Regions from separate parts of the Homo sapiens genome. Here all the other regions are linked to region 3. The links come from fine-mapping of genetic effects on gene expression. A gene starts in region 3. Each other region holds a variant in brackets. All regions are shown on one strand. Distances are from middle to middle. Region 1 overlaps VAT1L (vesicle amine transport 1 like). Region 2 overlaps VAT1L (vesicle amine transport 1 like). Region 3 holds the start of VAT1L (vesicle amine transport 1 like).

What was found. PIP is the estimated chance that this variant, and not a neighbour inherited with it, causes the effect. A credible set is the group of variants that fine-mapping cannot tell apart.
Region 1: its variant is the best candidate, but not a certain one, in a credible set for the expression of VAT1L in esophagus mucosa (GTEx, PIP 0.76).
Region 2: its variant is the best candidate, but not a certain one, in a credible set for the expression of VAT1L in tibial nerve (GTEx, PIP 0.53).

Annotation. Positions count from the first base shown.
Region 1 is chr16:77,895,708-77,900,707 of GRCh38, forward strand. All of the region lies in intron 7 of VAT1L (vesicle amine transport 1 like), which reads left to right. Among named protein-coding and RNA genes, the nearest start is that of VAT1L, 110 kb to the left of the region's middle. The variant T/C (reference allele first, on the strand shown) is at 2,902.
Region 2 is chr16:77,826,164-77,831,163 of GRCh38, forward strand. All of the region lies in intron 3 of VAT1L (vesicle amine transport 1 like), which reads left to right. Among named protein-coding and RNA genes, the nearest start is that of VAT1L, 40 kb to the left of the region's middle. The variant C/T (reference allele first, on the strand shown) is at 2,191.
Region 3 is chr16:77,781,008-77,791,661 of GRCh38, forward strand. VAT1L (vesicle amine transport 1 like) reads left to right here and starts at 7,557. Exons shown (of 9, transcript NM_020927.3): 1 at 7,557-7,908. The coding sequence starts at 7,676. All of the region lies in intron 1 of LOC107984878 (a long non-coding RNA gene), which reads right to left.

The sequences.
Region 1 (5,000 bases), 110 kb after region 3:
TAATTTATTGTAGCAACAACTGGAAACTAATACATACCACTAATGCCACTCAACAAATGCTTACAGAGTGCCTGCCTGCTGCGCGCCAAGCACCGGGCCAGGCTTTGCAAACACAGTTGCAAGTGAGAAAGCCTGGGCCTATGCTTAGGGGCAGCCAGGATGGTGGAAGTGAACAGTCAGACAATTATATAAGCAGGGAACGAAGCCTGGAGGAAGAGAGCTGGGCAGGGCTGAGACCCAGGCCTGTGCCACAGCCTGGGCAAAGGCCTGGAAGTTGGAGAGAAAGATGGAGGTTGGCACATTCAAGGACAGAAGAAAGGTTCATCAGGCTGAGCACAGAGTGATGGGGAGGCTGACCTCGAATGGAGGGGAGAGGAAACGGGATAGGAGGAATTCCCGCCAACCGCCGGAATATACCCATCCCTCTGGCCTTACTGGACCACTGTGATTTTCAGAAACCTGAGACTCTGAGCCTCCCTGCCTTTGTTCCAGTTGTTAACTTGGCCTGCATGCCCTTCCCTCATCCTTGTCCTCCTGCAAAATTCCTGGTCACCTTTTAAGACTCAGCCCTGGTGTCGACTCTTCCGTAAAACCATTCCTCCCTCTTGCCATTATCCCAACCCTGAGTTAGGAGGTACTGCTTTTAGATCCCATGGGCTTGCCTCCCTCATTGACATGTGCATGGGCAATTTCCTGTGAAAAATGGAGAGAATAACGCTACCTTCCTTCGGTTTCTATTTAGAGGGATTAAATGACCTAATGTACAAAAGGTACTTAGCTTAATGACTGACAGAGAGTAAGTGCTCAACATTAGCTGTCATTACAGGGCATTGCAAATGCATTTCCCCCAGAGAGTGGAGATATTTGAGGTCAGGGACTCTTGGCAAGGTGCCAAGGGAGGAGAACACAGGATATGCCCCGCGAAAGATTTCTGGGGCCTCAGGGCATGCATTTTCATCAGCCTGGTGCAGCATCTCCCATCAAGGTTCTAAGCAGACAACTTCATCTACACCAGGAGACCAGCGTGTTGCAGAATTAGGCTTATTCACAGCTCAGCACTCCTTGTTAGGAGTCTGGGAGCTCAGCTCTGAATACATTCCTGTTACAAAGAAAATGCTCGTCCTTGCCTTTACGCCTGTCATTCAGATGAAAATACTTCACAAAACTGGATTTCCTTGTGAGCCAGGGACAGAGTCAACTCACACTGCCCTTGGCTGTGTTTTAAAAGACACAGACCAGGATTCTGCTGTTTCCAAAGACTGGAAAGTTTCTATTTGCCTTTGAGGTTGATGGAGAAATTACTTAATATATCTTATTTGCAGAAAGGCAACAGAGGACCAGTTTCAAGATTTTTCCAAGATATCTGTACTGATATGTTAATCACAGATTCTTTATTTGCTAGACTAAGTAGATAACTGTGCTGCAGACCAAGATTCTTGAATCTTGGGACGTACATTTAAATCAGATAATGCATGAGTAAAAGGTCACATCCTGGCAGATAAACATGCTGTGGATATTACCACTACCCCCACCTCTGGAATCCACACTTCGGTCTGAGCATCAGTTTCCTCCATTAGAAATGGGGATACTACCATGTTCCTTGTTATTGCATAGGATTTATGATTATTGTGCAATCAACTGAGTCCATATGTGGTGAACTCTTGTACACTGTAAACCACTCTGCTGACACGAGGCATATTATAATGTGCAGAAGCAGGTCTGATTGGATGGGGGCAAATTCTTGGTCCAAAAAACTGGTTTTGTTTTTTGTTTTGTGTTTGAGACAGAGTTTCACTCTTGTCACCCAGGCTGGAGTGGAATGGTGCAATCTCGGCTCACTGCAACCTCTGCCTCCCAGGTTCAAGCAATGATCCTGCCTCAGCCTCCTGAGTAGCTGGGATTACAGGCGACGCCAGCCACCATGCCCAGCTAATTTTTGTATTTTTTAGCAGAGTCGGGGTTTCACCATGTTGGCCAGGCTGGTCTCGAACTCCTGAGCTCAGGTGATCCACCGGCCTCGGCCTCCCCAAGTGCTGGGATTCCAGGTGTGAGCCACTGCGCCCAGCCCAAACTGGGTTTCTTAACCCTTCCACTTCCTAGTGGTTTGTCCTGTAGCACTTCATTTTTCTCTTCCTCCTTTTCCTCCCCTATAAAATAGGAACAGCTGACTTTATTTCCCAAAACAGTTGTGTATGAGTTTGCTAGGGCTGTTGTAACAAAGTACCACAAGCCAAGGGGCTTACACAACAGAAATGTGTTGTCTCAGCGTTCTGGAGGCTGGAAGTGTAAAGATCAAAGTGTCTGCAGGGTCTGTTCCTTCTGAGGGTCATGAAGGAATCTGTCTCATGCATCTCTCTTAGGTCTGGCAATCTTTGGCATTCTTTGGCTTATAAGCACATCACCTCTATCTCTGCCTTCATCTTCACAAGGCATTCCCTCTGTGGGCATCTATCTCCAAAATTCCCCCACTTTATAAGAACACTAGTATTGGATTAGGGCCCACCCTACTTCAGTATAATCTCATCTTAACTAATTACATCTCCACAATCTCCATTTCTAAATAAGGTTGCGATGGAGTTGCTGGGAGTTAGGATTTCAACATATAAATATTTGGAAAAGAGGGGGGGGACACAGTTATATCCATAACAAACTATGAGTCACATACGATCAAAAACGGGAGATGCCTTGCAAATTATAAAGGGCTAAAGAGATAAAATTTTGCATGAGGGTTAAAAGGGCAAACTCCAGATTAAGTTCAAGTCTCCCCTCCTCCAGTTATAGCTGTGATTTCTTAGGAGAGTGGCTTCATTTCTTTCCTAAGCCTTGCTTTGCTATCTGTGAAATGAAGATGATAGCAGGGCCTCCTCTGTGGGGTTGCTGTGAAAATATCATGAGGCTGTG[T/C]GTGCAGGGCTTAAGGCATGCCCTGGCACCCAGTACGAGCCAGCCTCTGTTACCAGATCAGAAGGGGTGGGTTGGGTGGGGCCCTGCCTTTCCATCACCTTGCAGTCAAACCTCCCAGAGCTGGTTTCCTCCCTGATGTGCTACTGCTGTGCTGCAAACAGGCTTACCAGTGCCCTTTCCTCGTGCTTGTACTCATTTCCAAAGGCAACTGTGGGAGCTGCTTTATGGAACAGAAGCTCTGAACAGCACAAATGATAAACACATGCTGGTGTTTGCATTCCTCTAACCCTCCAACCATCTAGTCTCTGATTACTAAACTGTTAGCTTGTTTTGGGAGGTTCTGCCAGGAAAGTGCCACGCTCCAGTTAGTCATTTAATAAACTCTAAGTGAGCAGCTGCCAGCAGAGCCATGGACAAATGACAAAGGAGCAATCATGGCTACAGTGTGATATCTGCCCAGAGCCAGGCACTGTGCTGAGCACTTTACATGCATTAGCTCATCTAGACTCATGGCAATCCTGTAGGGAAAGAACTATTATTGCCCCCATTTTACAGATGAGGGCACTGAGGCTTAGAGCATTAAGTGACCTGGTCAAGGTTACACAGACAAAAAGTGGTGGAGCCAAAACTCAACTCTCAGACTGGCTCTCTCCTGAAGCTGTGCTTGTCACCAAGGCCTCAACCCCCTCCAGGAGCGGCGATGACTTTGTCCTGAGCTCTTCAACCTGGTTGCCCCGTCAGGCATCCTGATTTGCAGTGGAGAGATTGGCTTGAACACCCTGGTTCATCAGTTCCTACCTTCTGTGATTAGACAGGTGACACTGCATCTCAAACCTTTCTGCATCTGTAACCCTTGCTCTTCCTGCCTGTTTCAAAGTCTATTGCAAGCAGTGTGTAAGCTGTAAACTGCATGCTGTGTATGGAAATGCCACAGAGTGGGTGCTTGATACAACTTGAGCTTGCTTCTTCCTTTCTACTTCCCTTCCAAAATGTGTGTCATTTTCATAGCTTCCCTAGCACATTCACATGTGTTATCATTCAGTGAGTTTGCTCAACAGACACCAACTGAGTGAGGATGGGGATGTGGTGATTGAGCTCTGTTCCCATGACCAGGAGCTGAAAACCACGTGATGCTCACCCAACCTTTCCAGGGTTGATAAGAAGACCTAGATGCGGAGAGCGGATGTGTTCTCCAAGACACACAACTCTACTAAGTAGTAGCACAGATTCCCTTGACTTTAAGGCCAGTACTTGAGCCTCACCATCTCCCTTTCAGCCTCACCCAAATGGCTACAAATTACCAACTAGTTAGGCTCCAATTTCATTGCATTTTTATTGTTTGGCAGTTGGACATACTCCACATGAGCATGTTTACTTCCCAAGCTACACCGTATGCAAGGCTTTGCTGGAAGTGCAGAGGTGACAATTCAAAGAGGCTATACCTGACTCTACACCTTCTATTTGCACAGCATTTACTTGCCTTTGTGGGGATGAAGCCCCATAGTAAAACCACAGAGATAGGCAGGACAGGTGTTATGTTCATTACACAGATATGTGTGTGTTATAAACATAGACTGAGTAAGGTAATTTGCACAAGGTAGTAGAGCTGGGAATCCAAGCCACATTCCTTATTCCGGAGATCATATGAGTATTTGTGTGTCTGCATATATCTGTGTATTTGTGAGCTTTGCTTATGTGCTTATTTTGCCCTTTCTCCCAGCATAATTTTTTCTATATAGCAATTAAAATAAGCTATATAAATATATAACTACAATATACAACATTTAGAAAATAGGAAAAAAGGGCCGGGCAAGGTGGCTCACATCTATAATCCCAGCATTTTGGGAGGACAAGGCGGGGGGGATCAGGTTAGGTCAGCAGTTTGAGACCAGCCTGGGCAACATGGTGAAACCCCATTTCTACTAAAAATACAAAAATTAGCTGGGCGTGGTGGTAGCTGCCTGTAGTCCCAGCTACTTAGGAGGCTGAGGCGCGAGAATCACTTGAACCCGGGAGGCAGAGGTTGCAGTGAGCTGAAATCGCGCCACTGCACTCCAGCCTCAGCAGCAGAGTGAGACTGTGTCTTGAAAAAAAAAAAA
Region 2 (5,000 bases), 42 kb after region 3:
GCCACTGCACTCCAGCCTGGGCGACAGAGCGAGACTCCGTCTCAAAAAAAAAAAAAAAGAAAAAGAGAAGCATTCTCAACAGTCTTGGTATCATGATGAAAAGTTGTGTCAATCATTGTAAGACGTCTCACAAGTCATCTACTACTGCTATTATTTGAAATGACAAAATGGTCATTTTGTCAGTGATTTAGTTTTTTCAATAAATTGCAGTGGACTTGAGATGGTTCCCATATTAATGACATTCTTATTAATTTGTATTCTGCTATATTTTCTTGAGTGGGCAGAGATTGTACCAGCACACTAGAAATCATACATAAACCTAAGTACATTCATGAAAGTGGTTGCACATGTCAGCGTCATCTGTCAGGTGTGTCTCTGCCAAGGCGGAGAATGGTGGAAATCAAAATTTCTGCTCTAGATTTCAGGGATGGCAGAAACTTCTCTCATGGTTTGTCTGTGTCTCATTGCCAGGCATTCAGTGTATATTGCATGCCTGCTACATGGCAAGCACTATGTCTGTCATTGGTCTACTGGGGTCTGGGTGGAACGTTAGTGTTTCTGAGAGTGGAAGGTACTACCTACTAGTTCAAAACATATTAATTAAACACATAACATGTTCTAGACTCTGTGGATATAGAGATTAATCCCCTATCTTAGAGGTTTTGAGAGGTTCTCAGAGTCACTGATTCTGTAGTTTGATGAACTCAGAAATAAACTCTTAGGATTTGGTGTATCTCAGAGATATTTCACTGGAGGTTTTGCTAGCATACCGTTGATTTTAAAAAAGAAAAACTTGGCTTTCTGTAACTATTAAAACTCTATATAGTGTAGAGCACATTTCCGTTGTTTGTATCTAAGAAAACAAGCTCACATCCAGAACCATGAAGGCAAAGATAGGAAACTTTAGGAATGCCTTAAGAAAAATATCTTCAATCATTTTAGCAAATTTGCTGATACCTTTCGACCATGAATAAAGACATATAAAAGCTAAGCATCCCGTAGAAAAGAAATGGCTTTCAGTTCCAGTGAATCTGTTAACAGCAAGCAAGCCATTTAGAATGCTGGCATTTATGATCTTAGTGTGCTCAGCATACAAAGTATTAGAGACTTGTAGTCATACTATCAGCATAAGCTTCAGTCTTTACAATGACGCTGGACTCAGTTCTGCTGAGAATTAGTATTTATACATTTACACCTATGATATTTCATTTCATGTTTTTATTTTTATTGTTTTGTTCTTGGAGCAAAGAAGAATGTGTCAGGGGCATGTGTCTTACAAAAGGAAAATAATCTTGGAAAATAAAAAGAAGTTTTTATCGTGCTCTATTCTGGGCTTACAGATGCTACCGACAATACTAACTAAAGTGTAAAACAGGTGAAGGAACTGGGGAAAGTGGACAATGAGGGTTGGAAAATAAGTCAATGCACATAGCACAGGCTATGTTGTCCTAAAGCTTTGCTGAAGTTGTACAATTTTGTCTCTTAGCTTTCTAATAGTGAGTGAAAATAGGGGGAAATGGTCATCCATGTGAACTAGTGTTCATTTGATTGAAATAAAACAGTTACTAGGGGTAACCATAACTAACACTGGTTTTGGGGACCAGAGGACTCTTTCTTTCTCTGTGGTTTCTCATAAGAAATGTATGGTGAAATGCAATAAACATCCTCAACAAAGCTGTTATAGTAAATGCAACTGTTTCCATGAAGGTTTTTCTTACGGTGCACTCTTAATGTAATCTAAGAGCATCAAAGTAAAGCAAGATTTAGTGAGAGCATATATTCTTGGGCCAAAAGGATGTGGTCTGGTTTAATCTTCAGGCAGAGTTGAAAAGTGCAGTTGGACCCATCTCTCAGACGGGCTGGTCTCTTTGAATAGCGTTCTCTGAAACGAGATTTGATAGGTGGTGTGTGGCAATTAAAGGTTACCATTAGAGAAGAGATTTTTGGCAAAGTGCAGATCCACATATGTGAACACTCCGCTGAGCCGGGATGGGTGGGGCACTGTCTTACAAAATCTAAGGAGTCCTGCAGAGAGCCCACACCATCACACTCCCCTGCAGGGAGAGACCAGTGAGTCCCTGGTACCTGTATGTTGCCTTACCTGGCAAAAGGAACTTTACAGGTATGACTAAAGTAAGGACGTTGAGATAGGGAGGTTATCCTGCGTTATTCAGGATGACCCAGTGTCAT[C/T]ACAAGAGTCCTTAAAGGTGGGAGTGGGGGCCGGGCGCGGTGGCTCACGCCTGTAATCCCAGCACTTTGGGAGGCCAATGCGGGCGGATCACCTGAGGTCGGGAGTTCGAGACCAGCCTGGCCAACGTGGAGAAACCCCCATCTCTATAAAAATACAAAATTAGCTGGGCATGGTGGCGCATGCCTGTAATCCCAGCTACTTAGGAGGCTGAGGCAGGAGAATCGCTTGAAGCCGGGAGGCAGAGGTTGCAGTGAGCTGAGATCGTGCCACTGCACTCCAGCCTGGACAACAAGAGCAAAACTCCATCTCAAAAAAATAAAAAAATAAAAATAAAAAAGGTGGGAGTGGGAAGTAGAAGAATCAGAGAGAGAATGAGAGAAGCTACACTGCTGGCTCTGATGGAGGAGGAGGCTGTGAACCAAGGAAGCAGGTGGCCTCTAGATGCTGGAAGAGGCAGGAAATGGATTCGCCTCTTGAGCTTTCAGAAGGAATACAACCCTGCTAAGACCTTCATTTTAGCCGAGCGAAACCCATTTTGCCCTTCAGACCTCTAGCAATTTAATATCCCAAATCTGTGTTTTGAGCCACTAAGTTTGTGTTAATTTGTTGCCACTTATGGGAAACCGATACTACCACTTTCCTGGGGCTGCCTCTCTCCCTCCCTTTTCATTATGGCCCGCCAGCAGAGGCCTGAAGAAAATCAAAGTAGCGAATTGCAGAACTACGATTCGTACCTCAATTTGGCTGATTCCAAAACCTCTTCTCTTTCCATTCAACAGCCCAAAATGTTGGGAGAGCCAGCCCAGATTCTTCAGTCCTTCATTTAACAAATATTTGTTCAACCTCTACCCAGTGCTCAGCATAGATGTTTTCAAGATCCAAAAGACGGGCCCAGGTACATATTTGCTAACTTGGTGTCGATGAGATGACAAAGAAGACTAAACCTAGTAATAGCTGGGGCAAAGTTTCCTAAATAGGGTTATGTAAAGTGTGTAGCCCTAATGGCACCAAGACTTCTGTCCGAGTTTCATCAAAGGCTGAGATGGGGAATTTGCAGACAGCATGTGAGGAATACCAAACTTAGCTATGGTTTTAAGGAAACCTGAATACAGCATGGAAAAATAATTCAATCTGGAGCAGGATACACTCTCATTGGAATTGCCCACTGCCTCCATGCTCTGTCATATCTTTGAGGACATTGTTTTCCTCTGACAATAGCATGACAAGATGGCCCCAAATGGCAGTGCTCTTAATAAGATCTTTAGAAACTGGTTGAAAATTGGGTCACAATCCTTTAAAGGAAAAGTAACAAAATAGGTAACAGAATGAGACTCATGTTGGGCCTCGAGTTTTGTTGCCAGTCCCGTTTAATGAGCCTTGTTGATAAAGCTGCTATGACTCTGAGTCTCTTAATCCGGGTGTGCTCAGTTTCTGGAGAGTGGCATTACTGTTCCTGTGAGGTTATTTGCATTTGTGTCTGATATCTGATGCTTTGCAGTTTTCAGAGTCCTCTTACCTTTATCATCATATCATCTGAGCAGAGATTACTATAGGCAGTAAGCAAGCATCATTCCCATTTTACAGAAGTGGAAGCTGAGGGTTAGAGAAAATGAAGTGAACCTAGGTGCCAGCATGTGCCCCGGCTTCCTGACCCCATTTGATGCTGTCACTGGTCCACCACCTCCAGCCAGCCCCTCGAGGAACATGAGATGCGCCTCTATTCTGTGCCTTTTCAGAAACTGTCTCAGGGAAGATGAGGCAAGATCAGCACTCTGCCCTCCAGCCACCCTGACCTTCTCACTCTACTCAGAACACTCTTTATCTTATGGTGTACTCCTAATGTAATCTAATAGCATCAAAGTAGCAAAATTTGAAGCTCTGAACCTCTGTGCCTTTTCATATGCTGTTTTTTTCTTTCCAAAATGGTATTCTCTCCCAATTCAGATGTAAGCTCCTCTGGGAAGCCATACTGTCCTCTCTTGTCTGGGTAGCCTTAACCCTTTAATAAAAGCTATAGGAGAATCCTTACAGCCTTTTATTTGTCTATGGTTTGATATGGTTTGTCTGTGTCCCCGCCAAAATCTCATCTTGAATTATGGCTCCCATAATTCCCACATGTTGTGGGAGGGACCCAGTGGGAGGAGTCTTTCCCATGCTGTTCTTGTGATACGGAGTAATTCTCACAAGATCTGATGGTTTTATAAAGGGGAGTTCACCTGCACAAGCTCTCTTCCCTGCTACCATGTAAGACATGACTTTGGTCCTCCTTTGCCTTCCACCATGATTAGGAGGCCTCCCAGCCATGTGGAACTGTGAGTCCATTAAACCTCTTATTCTTTTTTGTTGTTGTTGAGATGGAGTCTCACTCTCTCAGGCTGGAGGGCTGTGGCGCAGTCTCAGCTCACTGCAGCCTCTGCCTCCCGGGTTAAAGGGATTCTCACGCCTCAGCCTCCTGAGTAGCTGGGATTACAGGCCCGAGCCACCATGCCCAGCTAATTTTTGTATTTTTAGTAGAGATGGGATTTCACCACGTTGGCGAGGCTGTTCTCGAACTCCTGATCTCAGGTGATCTGCCCGCCTCGGCCTCCCAAAGTGCTGGGATTACAGGCGTGAGCCACCGCATCTGGCCAAACCTCTTATTCTTTATGTTACCCAGTCTTGGGTATTTCTTTATTAGCAGTGTGAGAACAGAATAATACATGGTTCATCCTCCCAGCAACATTTCATGGGCAGAGTTATCATCTACTGAAGGCTGGGTTGTTTGGTAAGAAGAAGACAGGCAAACCTGAATCCAGTCTTCAGCTCTGTC
Region 3 (10,654 bases):
AGGCGAAGAAGAAGAAGGAGGAGGAGGAGCAGGAGGAGGAGGAGGAGGAGAAATGGAAGAGGAAGAGGAAGAAAAGAAAAAGAGAAAAAAATCATACAGCATCACACTAGGGGGAGGACCCTAGATAATATTCAAGGGGAGGGGTACAAGAAATCACTCAGAAATTATCTTTCAGTGTGAGTGAAATTTCAAAAACAAACTACATGATTTAAATTCCTTAGTCCTATGTTGTATATTTTCCTCTTTACTTGACCAACCATGTTTACCAAATGATACTAAACAATTGATAAGATCATCTCCACATGGATAACAGCTGCTTATGGAGATGAGTAAGAGCAGGTGAAATGTTTCTATTTCTATTCATACATGAGCAGATTAATAGAGAGCTAAAATGGTGTTCAGGGTCTTATGAGTAGCACTTTTGGTTAGGGTTTTCCTGTTAACATCCATTATAAAATTGCAGCTGGATCCCTATGGAGAGAAAACTCCAACAGGGTGAAAATGTATCTTACAGAGGAGTTGTGAGAGGGAAGCATTGAATCCCAGGGACTGGGATTCTTGGGTAATGTTTTGTTGTAGGGAGGCCATGGGGACTCCTCAATACTCCACACAGACTATCATTCATTTATTTAAAGCCCTTCAGTGGCATCTGTGGAAGATACTGCTACACCTCCTAATGCTATCTGTCCCTTTCCTCATTAATTGTAGAACCTTAGCTTTTACTTGGACATTGTTACTTAGCTAAGAAAAAACTAGGTTTCCCAGCATCCTTTGCAGTGGGATGTGGCCATGTGACTAGGCTCTGGCTAATATGAGATAAGTACATGTATTATGGTGGAGTCCTGAAGTGCCCTTAAGATGAAAGCTGTGGGTCTTTCTTCCCCTCTCACGCATCTCTGTCCTGTCACCCAGCACATAAATGTGATGGCTATATCTTAAACTATGAGAATGGAGGCCAGTGATTCATGACCTGGAGTACAGAGCAGGAAGGAACACTGATCCTTGATGATAATGTACAGCCTCCATCCCATCCTAATGTATTTTATATTCTTTAAGCCAATTTTTATTTTATTATTATATTTTGTTGTCTGTAGCTGAACCTAATACATTACCATTGCTTTCATAGAGAAGCTTTTACCGACCATGCAGATAGCCCCTTGTATTTCCCCTTTACAGCACTTATTGAACTGGTAAATGACTAATTACTTACATGATTTTTTTTTTTTTGGTTTAATATATGTAGCAGAGATGGTCAGTGCCCAACCTACCCCCTCTTGGATCTCATCACTGCCATGCACAGCGACCCCATGGCTTCCAAGTACAAACACCTGCAACTCTTTCAGGACAGCTTTGTCTGGCTGCCTATTCCCAAACAGCCCATGTGCATGGCAGGCTAGAAGTGGCAGATGGCTAGTGCCCCACAGAAACAGTCCTCAACTAAGGACTAACAGGAGCTGGTGGATTCTCCATTTTCTTTGCCTCTTGATGGGGATACATCTGAGATGTGCTCTACGCTGTCTCCTAGAGTTCCCCAGCAGGATTTAAGCAGGTTATAGCAGTGATAACCTGCTAAGTAATACACCTCATATTGGCTTCTTTCCTACCCTGTCTCACCTTCACAGACCTCTTCCAGTGCTTCCTGGGATCACTTCTCAAGCCGTATGTATGCAAATCTTCAAATTAACAAACGTTTGCTCCTGGGCAACCCAATATATACCTCCTCAACAGGGCTGATAACTCCATTAGGACTGAGAATATATTTGTCTTATTCACCATGTTATCTCCAGCATTTAGCAACAGCACAAGGTCACCACTCAAAAGGTGATAAGTATCAGTGCACTTTTTTTCCCCTCAGACACAACTAGAGTTTACCATGTAAGACCCGTCCTACAAAGTGTAGACAGGAAGTGTATACTGCCACCATCAGGATGGGCTGCACACTTCTCTAGCACTTCTCTGAAAAATAATGTTGTGCTCATTGGGAATTAACCACAAACTATAAGAAATTATGGCACAAATCCTCTAATATAACTCCCTGGATTTTGTTAGGATATTTCAACAGCCAGAATCTTTTACCTCTCTCCATTATTGACCTCCTAAATTTGTCTCCTTTTTCTTAACCTATTTGATGGCATTCTTGTGAGTAAAAGAGCAACAAATAAAACCATAAGCATTGAAGTGTGGTGGTTAAGAACATACATTTCAAAGTCAAATAGCTCCCATTTCAAATCTCAACTCTGCAATTTGTTTAGGAAGTAATTCTGGGAAAGTTACTCAGTTTATATTAAATTTTCTCCTCTGTAAAGTAGGGATAATAGTCCTATAGCATAGGATTATTTTAAAGATGAAATATGTACAACAAATGATTCTAATTGTATTGAAGAGAATACAATGCAACAAATATTATTAAAGCATATAGTTAAAGACATTGACCCTCTTCCTTAAATAACATTTCTCTGGGAAGTTACTGAACCATTCCAAATAATTTAGAAAACGATTTCTAAAAGTGTACTGTGTCCAGAATTAGTGGGTTCTTGGTCTCACTGACTTCTAGAATGAAGCCGCGGAGCCTTGCGGTCAGTGTTACAGCTCTTAAGGTGACGCGTCTAGAGTTTGTTCCTTCTGATGTTCGGATGTCTTCGGAGTTTCTTTCTTCTGGTGGGTTCGTGGTCTCACTGGCTCAGAAGTGAACCCGTGAACCTTCGCGGTAAGTGTTACCGCTCTTAAGGCAGCGCGTCTGGAGTTGTTCGTCCCTCCCGGTGAGTTCATGGTCTCGCTGGCTTCAAGAGTGAAGCTGCAGACCTTTGCGGTGAGTGTTACAGCTCATAAAGGCAGTGTGGACCCAAAGAGTGAGCAGCGGCAGGATTTCTTGCAAAGAATTAAAGAACAATGCTTCTACAGTGTGGAAGGTGACCCCAGCGGGTTGCCACTGCTGGCTCAGGCAGCCTGCTTTTATTGTCTTATCTGGCCCCACCCACATCCTGCTGATTGGTAGAGCCCAGTGGTCTGTTTGGACAGGGCGCTGATTGGTGCGTTTACAATCCCTGAGCTAGACACAAAGGTTCTCCACGTCCCCACTAGGTTAGCTAGATACAGAGTGTCGACACAAAGGTTCTCCAAGTCCCCACCAGAGTAGCTAGATACAGAGTGTCCATTTGTGCATTCACAAACCCTGAGCTAGACACAGGGTGCTGATTGGTGTGTTTACCAACCTTGAGCTAGATACGGAGTGATGATTGGTGTATTTACAATCCCTGAGCTAGACATAAAGGTTCTCCAAGTCCCCACCAGACTCAGGAGCCCAGCTGGCTTCACCTAGTGGATCCCGCATGGGGGCTGCAGGTGGAGCTGCCTGCCAGTCCCTTGCCGTGCGCCCGCACTCCTCAGCCCTTCGGTGGTCAATGGGACTGGGCGCCGTGGAGCAGGGGGTGGCGCTCGTCGGGGTGGCTCAGGCTGCACAGGAGCCCATGGAGCGGCGAGGGGAGGCTCAGGCATGGCGGGCTGCAGGTCCCAAGCCCTGCCCCGCGGGAAGGCAGCTAAGGCCCCGGGAGGGCAGCGACAGTGGGCCGGCAGTGCTGGGGGACCCAGCACACCCTCCGCAGCCGCTGGCCCTGGTGCTAAGCTCCTCATTGCCGGGGGCCGACAGGGCCGGCCGGCCGCTCCGAGTGAGGGCCCGCCAAGCCCACGCCCACCAGGAACTCCAGCTGGCCCGCAAGCACTGCACGCAGCCCCGGTTGCCGCTCGGGCCTCTCCCTCCTCATCTCCCCGCAAGCTGAGGGAGCCGGCTCCGGCCTCGGCCAGCCCAGGAAGGGGCTCCCACAGTGTAGCAGCGGGCTGAAGGGCTCCTCAAGCGCGGCCAGAGTGGGCGCCAAGGCCAAGGAGGCCCCGAGAGTGAGCGAGGGCTGTGAGGGCTGCCAGTATGCTGTCACCTCTCAGTACTGATGGTTTCCCATATTTTCTTACTCAGAGACTTTACCTCTATTAGGGGTTCCTATATCTGGCCTTCTACATCCCCCCCCACCCCCCACACACACCCCCACGTGCACATACCCTGCCCCAGACCATTTGCAAGGTAACAGAGCTGAGCTGTAATACTCTGTTTTACCATCAGTGGCCACTGTTTGACATTATGTACAATGATGTACATAATGCACATTATTCTACAATAATGTAAGAAATTCCACAACGGAGGCTCTGAGTGAATGTCCAAGGAATCAATTTTACAAATTAAAAATTGATTTATTGTGTTTATTTGGAGATATGCCATGCACTGTGGCTCTTTCCACGTTCCACCAGGGAGTACCAGAGTTGGGAATATTTAACAATAGTGGTATATAGGACTCAGAAGAGGGTATCTCCCCACCCCCCCACAAGCAGCACAGACTGTGGTGGGTTCTCTCTGGGTTGTTGTGATAATCAGCTGCCTACCAATTATAATCTGGGGTTTGTAAACAGCCAGAAGATTCCCTTGGAGGGAGTAATTATATTCCCTTTAACACACTGTAAGACAAACACTTTCTCTTTAACATGCTGTGTGCTGACTACAAAGTGGGTTTACTTTACTAATGCCAAAGGAAAACAAACACTCAGAACCAAGGCAAGGGACCTTGGTGGTACAGAGATAGTAGGCGGTGAAAAAAAAGAGCAGGGAACATTAAAAAATGCCATGGAGTATTGTCAATCAGGGGCAGAACTGGTTTGGCCTGTCCGTATAAACATGCATGATGAGATCTTAAGAGCACAGATTTGGAGTTGGTCTTCTATCTCATTATAACTAGCATGTTCCTTTGAGCACAATAATTCATCATGTTAAGATTCATTTTCATTTTCCTCTTCCATAAAGTGGGAATAGGAATTCTTACTCATGAGATTATTTTCAGAATCAAATTAAGAAATATACCTACAGTGTCTAGAACAGTAGACACCTCCAAAACAATAACATATATTGCAGATATTATTGGTGCCAAAGCTATGTCTCCATGGAATTCATCATTCCATGTATAAAATGATAGCTTCCTGCAAAGAGCATCCACAATTCTCTGCCTGGGGATTCTCTCAGCCCAAGTACATGGGACAGGATGGAAATGTCAAGGAGTTAACAATTCCAGGAACAGTTCTTGACCAATCAAGCATAGACTTTAGTGAATAAATACCTATGTCCTCACTCCTTGGGTGAGACAACTCTGAGACTTGTTCTACACTGTCTCTCAAATGTCCCCTGCGGGTTTGAGCTCCAATTGTCCACTGCGGTAATCTGCTTATTAATACATCTCATATTGGGTAGTATCAATTTTCTGTCTCACTTTCCTACTTCCCAGCCAGAGCTTCCTGGGATTACTTCCAAAATAAACGACGGGTGTTCAAATTCTTGTTTCAGGACAGAATCCAGCCTAAACACTGTATCTCACAATGTAAACAAGACAAACAATTTGGACAATTGGATTCACAATAAAATGTTCAATTCACTAACCAAGCCCTATTCAGGCTTCTTTTAGCCCTCTTCCTTCCATCCCATGGCCATTGCCTCAGTTGGGACCATTCTCATTTATTTTGTTTCTTTTTGGGGATTTTTTTTTTTTTTTGCCTGCACTTAGTCTCTAACTGATCTCGATGCTTCCAGTAACTCTATCATCTAATCCATCACCCACTTACTGTCAAAGTTATTATCCTAAAATGCAGTTCTGGTAATGCTCTCCCCATGTTTTTGTTTTTTAAGCCTTTATGGCACCAATTGCCTCTGTGATTATGTCTTAAATTTTATAACCTGGTATGTGAGAACTTTCAAAAGCTGGTCCCAATAAACCTTTCAGCCTCATCTCCAATGATTGCTAAATACAGCCAATGTTCTGCCTACATAGAACAAACCAGAATCTCAAAAGCCCTTTTACCTGTTACCTTTCTGTGTTATTTGAATGAGCTTGCGACCTTTTCTGCCAGAAGAACCTGCCTTATCCTTCAAGGTCTAGCCCAAATGTTCCCTCCTCCATGAGAACTTCTCCAACTCTCTGGACCAGTTTTTCAACAGGCTGCCTCTGTGCATATTCTACTATGTACCAATCATGTATTAAGCCCTGGGAAAACCACGCTGGATAAAAGTAGAAATAGCTCCTGCTCACATGAAGTTCACAGTTGGATAAAGGAAACAGATATTATCAGGTAAACATATAAAAGTTGGCTACAAAGGGACATAAGTGTCTATAGTCAGGGAGGACACCAATCTGGAGGTTGGAGTGCCTCCCAACAGGAATGGACCCTTGAGGTGAGAACGAAGTAGGAGTTAACACCAGATAAAGGAGATGGAACACATACCCCAGGCCAAGGGGACAGCAGGTGCAGAACCCTGTGGAAGGAGGGAAAATGGCAATCGTCTTTTTTTTTTTTTTTTTTTTTTTTAAGGAATAGAAGACAAGGGCATTTAAAGCAGTGAGGCACAGGAAGAATGAGGGGAGAGAAGAGGCAGCACTTACATCATTCATTGTACCACATTTGTTGACTGTGTCCTTCATGCCTCATGCTCTGAAATTGACCTTTTCCAATATAAGGACCATGTCTCACTGAAATCATGTCCACCCCAGCACTTCACACAATATAGAAAAAAAAATCAATGTACCCAATTTATAGATGAGTGTGTTGAGGCTCAGGAAGGTTGAATGAGTTGCCCAAGATCTCAAGGCTGGCAATGGCATAGCAACTATAATAGAATATAGACCTACTTCCTCACCTGCATCTCTTTCCTTAAACTGCCCCTAGGAAAACCACGTCCTTCCCCATTATTTTATTTCAGAAATTCCAAGTTTTTCTATGAGCTGTTTTTCTCAAAGAGCCTGATAACAAAACAAAACGCCAGTTACTACTCTGTGTATGTGCATGCATGTTGGGGAGCGGGTACACACTGGTCTTCCGGGGATCAGAACACGAACAGGATCCTTTCTGGTACAGGATTCTTGTCTGAAGCCTCTTTAATAGCCCGAAATGGTGTGGGTGGTGAGAATTCGCCGTCGTAAGGAAGCCCCTGGTGATACCCAGCAAAGAGCATCCCGGCTGACCCTGCAGGTCTGGAGTGAAAAGACCCTGCACTGGACTCTTCAGGGCAGTGAGCGGGATCTCTAGTTCCCTGCTTCCCAAACCTCTCCGCCCTTCCACCCAAAACTGGCTGTTTGAGAAACGACCCAATTTCCCGACTATCCCGCCCAGCCTCGAAGATGGGAGGGAGAGAGGGCAACCTTGTCGCGGTAAGGCATCCTCCAGGCCCAGACATTAGTCTCGGTCCATTTCAAGGCACCCGAGCCTGTGCCGTATATAACCAAGTACTGGGCCCACAGGAAGGGGGATGACAGGGTGGTCTCTCTAGGCTCGTTTTAGTCACAGATCTTCGGCAAATTTGGGTTTAGGGCCGCGATCCCGACCCTAACTTGGGACTATTTCAGGAACTGGAGTTGAGGCTTCGTTGGGACAGGAAAGAAGGGTGGGGCGGGGGTGAAGCGCTTAGGGCACGGCTCTTGTGAGGATTACGGCGGAGGCTGTGGACCGCGGCGGCGCTCGCAGAGGCTGCAGCCATTGCACAGCCGAGCATCCCACATTCAACAGGAGGAACCCGCGGGAGAGGAGCCCCACTCCCCCAGCGCCGCAGCCACCGCAGCCACCGCAGCCCGTGCGCCCCGCGCCCTCGAGCGCCATGGCCAAGGAAGGCGTGGAGAAGGCGGAGGAGACGGAGCAAATGATCGAGAAGGAGGCAGGCAAGGAGCCGGCGGAGGGCGGCGGCGGCGACGGCTCGCACCGCCTCGGGGACGCCCAGGAGATGCGCGCGGTGGTGCTGGCTGGCTTCGGGGGGCTCAACAAGCTGCGGCTCTTCAGGAAGGCCATGCCCGAGCCTCAGGACGGCGAGCTCAAGATCCGCGTCAAAGCCTGGTCCAGTATCCGCGCCTTTCTCGCTTTCTCTCTTTTTGCGCGCTGGGCGCTGGGGAGGGGGTGGGAAAGCTGCGGCTGGGATGCTGCCCGGGTAGAACCGCCGCGCGCACCCCCTCCGCGCCCTCACCCGGGTCTCAGAGCCTCCCCGGGCCAAAGCTGGGGAGGATGCAGAGGGGCGGCCTCCCCAAGCCAGATCTAGGGGTGACGGGAGGAGAATGTGAGCTCCTGGGCGCGGGGAGAATGCTGGCGCCCAGGCACCCCGGGTCTGGAAGATTGCGCTACGGGAGTTCTCCGTCTGAGAGGACAACTCAGCTTTCGCACGGGAGGGTTGATGCTTAACAGAATTAAAAATATATGTATTAAGAACCGCAAGCCCACTGTGTGCCAGCCGCCGTTGGTAGTTTTACACGTGCGATCTTATTTAATACTTCCTGGGACCTAATGAGTCAGGTGCCATCATGATCCGTTTACAGGTAAGAAAGCCGCCGCTCAGCGAGAATGAGTGATTTGCCCAAGATCAGTCAGCTGCCACTAAGTGGCTTGGCCGGGAATTTGATACATGATCTTTTTTCACCTCTATGCTGTTGTCCTGAAGGGCCTGGGACAGGGTGCAGGGCTGGATCCCGCCTCCTGCCCACTTCCTTCCCCGTAGCCTGACGGGGAAAGGAACTAGGAAGGAAGAGGGTCGGTACCTTGCACCCAGGCTTGGTGAGGGTGGAGACCAGGGCTGCAGCGCAACCCCCTCCATGCCCCTCTCCATCCTCTGTTTCTCCGAGAGGGGAAAAAACCCTGATCAGTCTCCCCGGAATTCCTGGTCCCATCTCAGAAGGAGCTCAGCTCTCTAAGCTGCCCTCTATTCCCCATTCCCCCTGGGGGAACTTCTCCAGGCCCTCACGCTCAGCTGAAATTCCCGGGGAGAGTTTAAGCCTCTCTGTGTGCGGGCACTGTAATTTCCCTGAAGTTCTGGGAAGAGCTTACCCAGCAGAGGCGGACTGGACCCAACACTAGGTTTGCATGTTAAACTTGTAAGGGGAACTTGCTATTAATCACGGTGAGACGAGCCTATTCCTTCCCATCTGTTTTCTAGAGCCCCCCAGTACATACTGCTCTCCAAAGCAGCAGCCAGCTCACGAGCTTCTAGGTTAGATCAGAAACCCAATATCTGGACCTCTCTAGAGGCACGAGAAATACAAACGAGGGTCCCCTCCCGTTCACCACCTTGAGAACAGACGCAGGTTTCATCGGCCAGATTAGAAAGCAGCTAGTGGGAGAAGCAGCCGCTGATCCCTGCCTTGCTGCTCATATATGCAGCTGGTCAGGTTTGACTCTGAACACGACTCGTGAGTCTCTGTGGGGAATTCCGGGTAAGGGAAGAGGCTTTTGCAAACCGGGGGATCCTGTACAATAAACTCTTATTGAACCAAGTTGTTTGATCCCAGAAGGAGAGCTTATATCTGCCCTTTCGCAGCTAAATCCCCAAAGACCAGCCCACTCCCCCACCCCACACTGTTTGGCCCACTGCACATCCTAAATAAGTTATCGCTGAATGAATGGATTGAGGAAAGAGCTCGGAGGAGGATTGTTGGGTCATTATTTTTCTTTACTTGCTGGTGGAAGAGCTTTTGCTTAGTACAATTAAAACCATGCATTTAGAACTCTCCTTCCTTAACCACTTCATCAAAAAAAATTACCTGTATACACACACCTATGCATATATGTGCATATACATATATACAATTATATATACAGTTGCATATGTATGCGTATGTAATTTATGACCCTTCATCCAAATTGAGGATGGGATTCTAGGATTCTAGAGTACATATTCAGAGAGGGAAAATGATAAAACTACTTTTTAAAGGAAAGAGCATCATCTGCAGTACACATAGTTCTGTGTTTTCCAGTCTTATGTTAACTGCATAATTGCTGATAGGAACTGAAGCATTTTGAAATAATAAATGTCAAGATGAAGGCCAAGAGATTGATTTTCAAAGCCAGATGTGAAAGCCTGTTCTTCAGTGGCGCTACACACACACACACAGAAATCACTGCACTTCCCCGACCCTAGTTGTTCAGAAAGCCAACCAGGCTGCAGGTACATTTGGAATACAGTGTTGCAAACAGCCCAGATTGATTTTCCTTTCACCAAGCTGGAAGCAGAGTTAATGGTTTTACAAGGAAGGATTGTAATAGGCTTGTAAATGGCCCACTGGGCAGCTCCTTCTCCTCTGGGCTGGGATTGGCTGGCCAGACATGATCATTGATTATAAGTTTTAGCCTTGGGATACAGGATGACTCATTCTGTATTTTTATGAATCAGCCGATGGCTTCCTGGATGATGGTCTCCCTTTTATCTGCTCTCTATTTTTAATAGAAACCTTTTTGTCATAATAGGATATGCTTTTTGCTTGGAATAAAGCATAGTCCATTTGAACCAGTATTAGACAGACCTGGAATGACGTTCCAAGTTGGCTATGAATTTTATGAAAATGGAAGAGATGAGGCAGGAAGAAATATCCATTTTATATCATGGACCCTTTTTCATTAATGCGCCAGTGAGATGGGTATTTTTCCTACAGAACAGAAGAGCAAATTGAGGCTTGGAAACATTGAGTAATTTGCCAAAAACATCAAAAAATAGTAGACTTAGGATTTGAATCTAATTCTCCTTATATTTTTGCTATTTTCCTTTTATTCCATTTTTGTCTCCCTTGGTGGAAAAGCCTTAGCACATGTGATTCCCCTC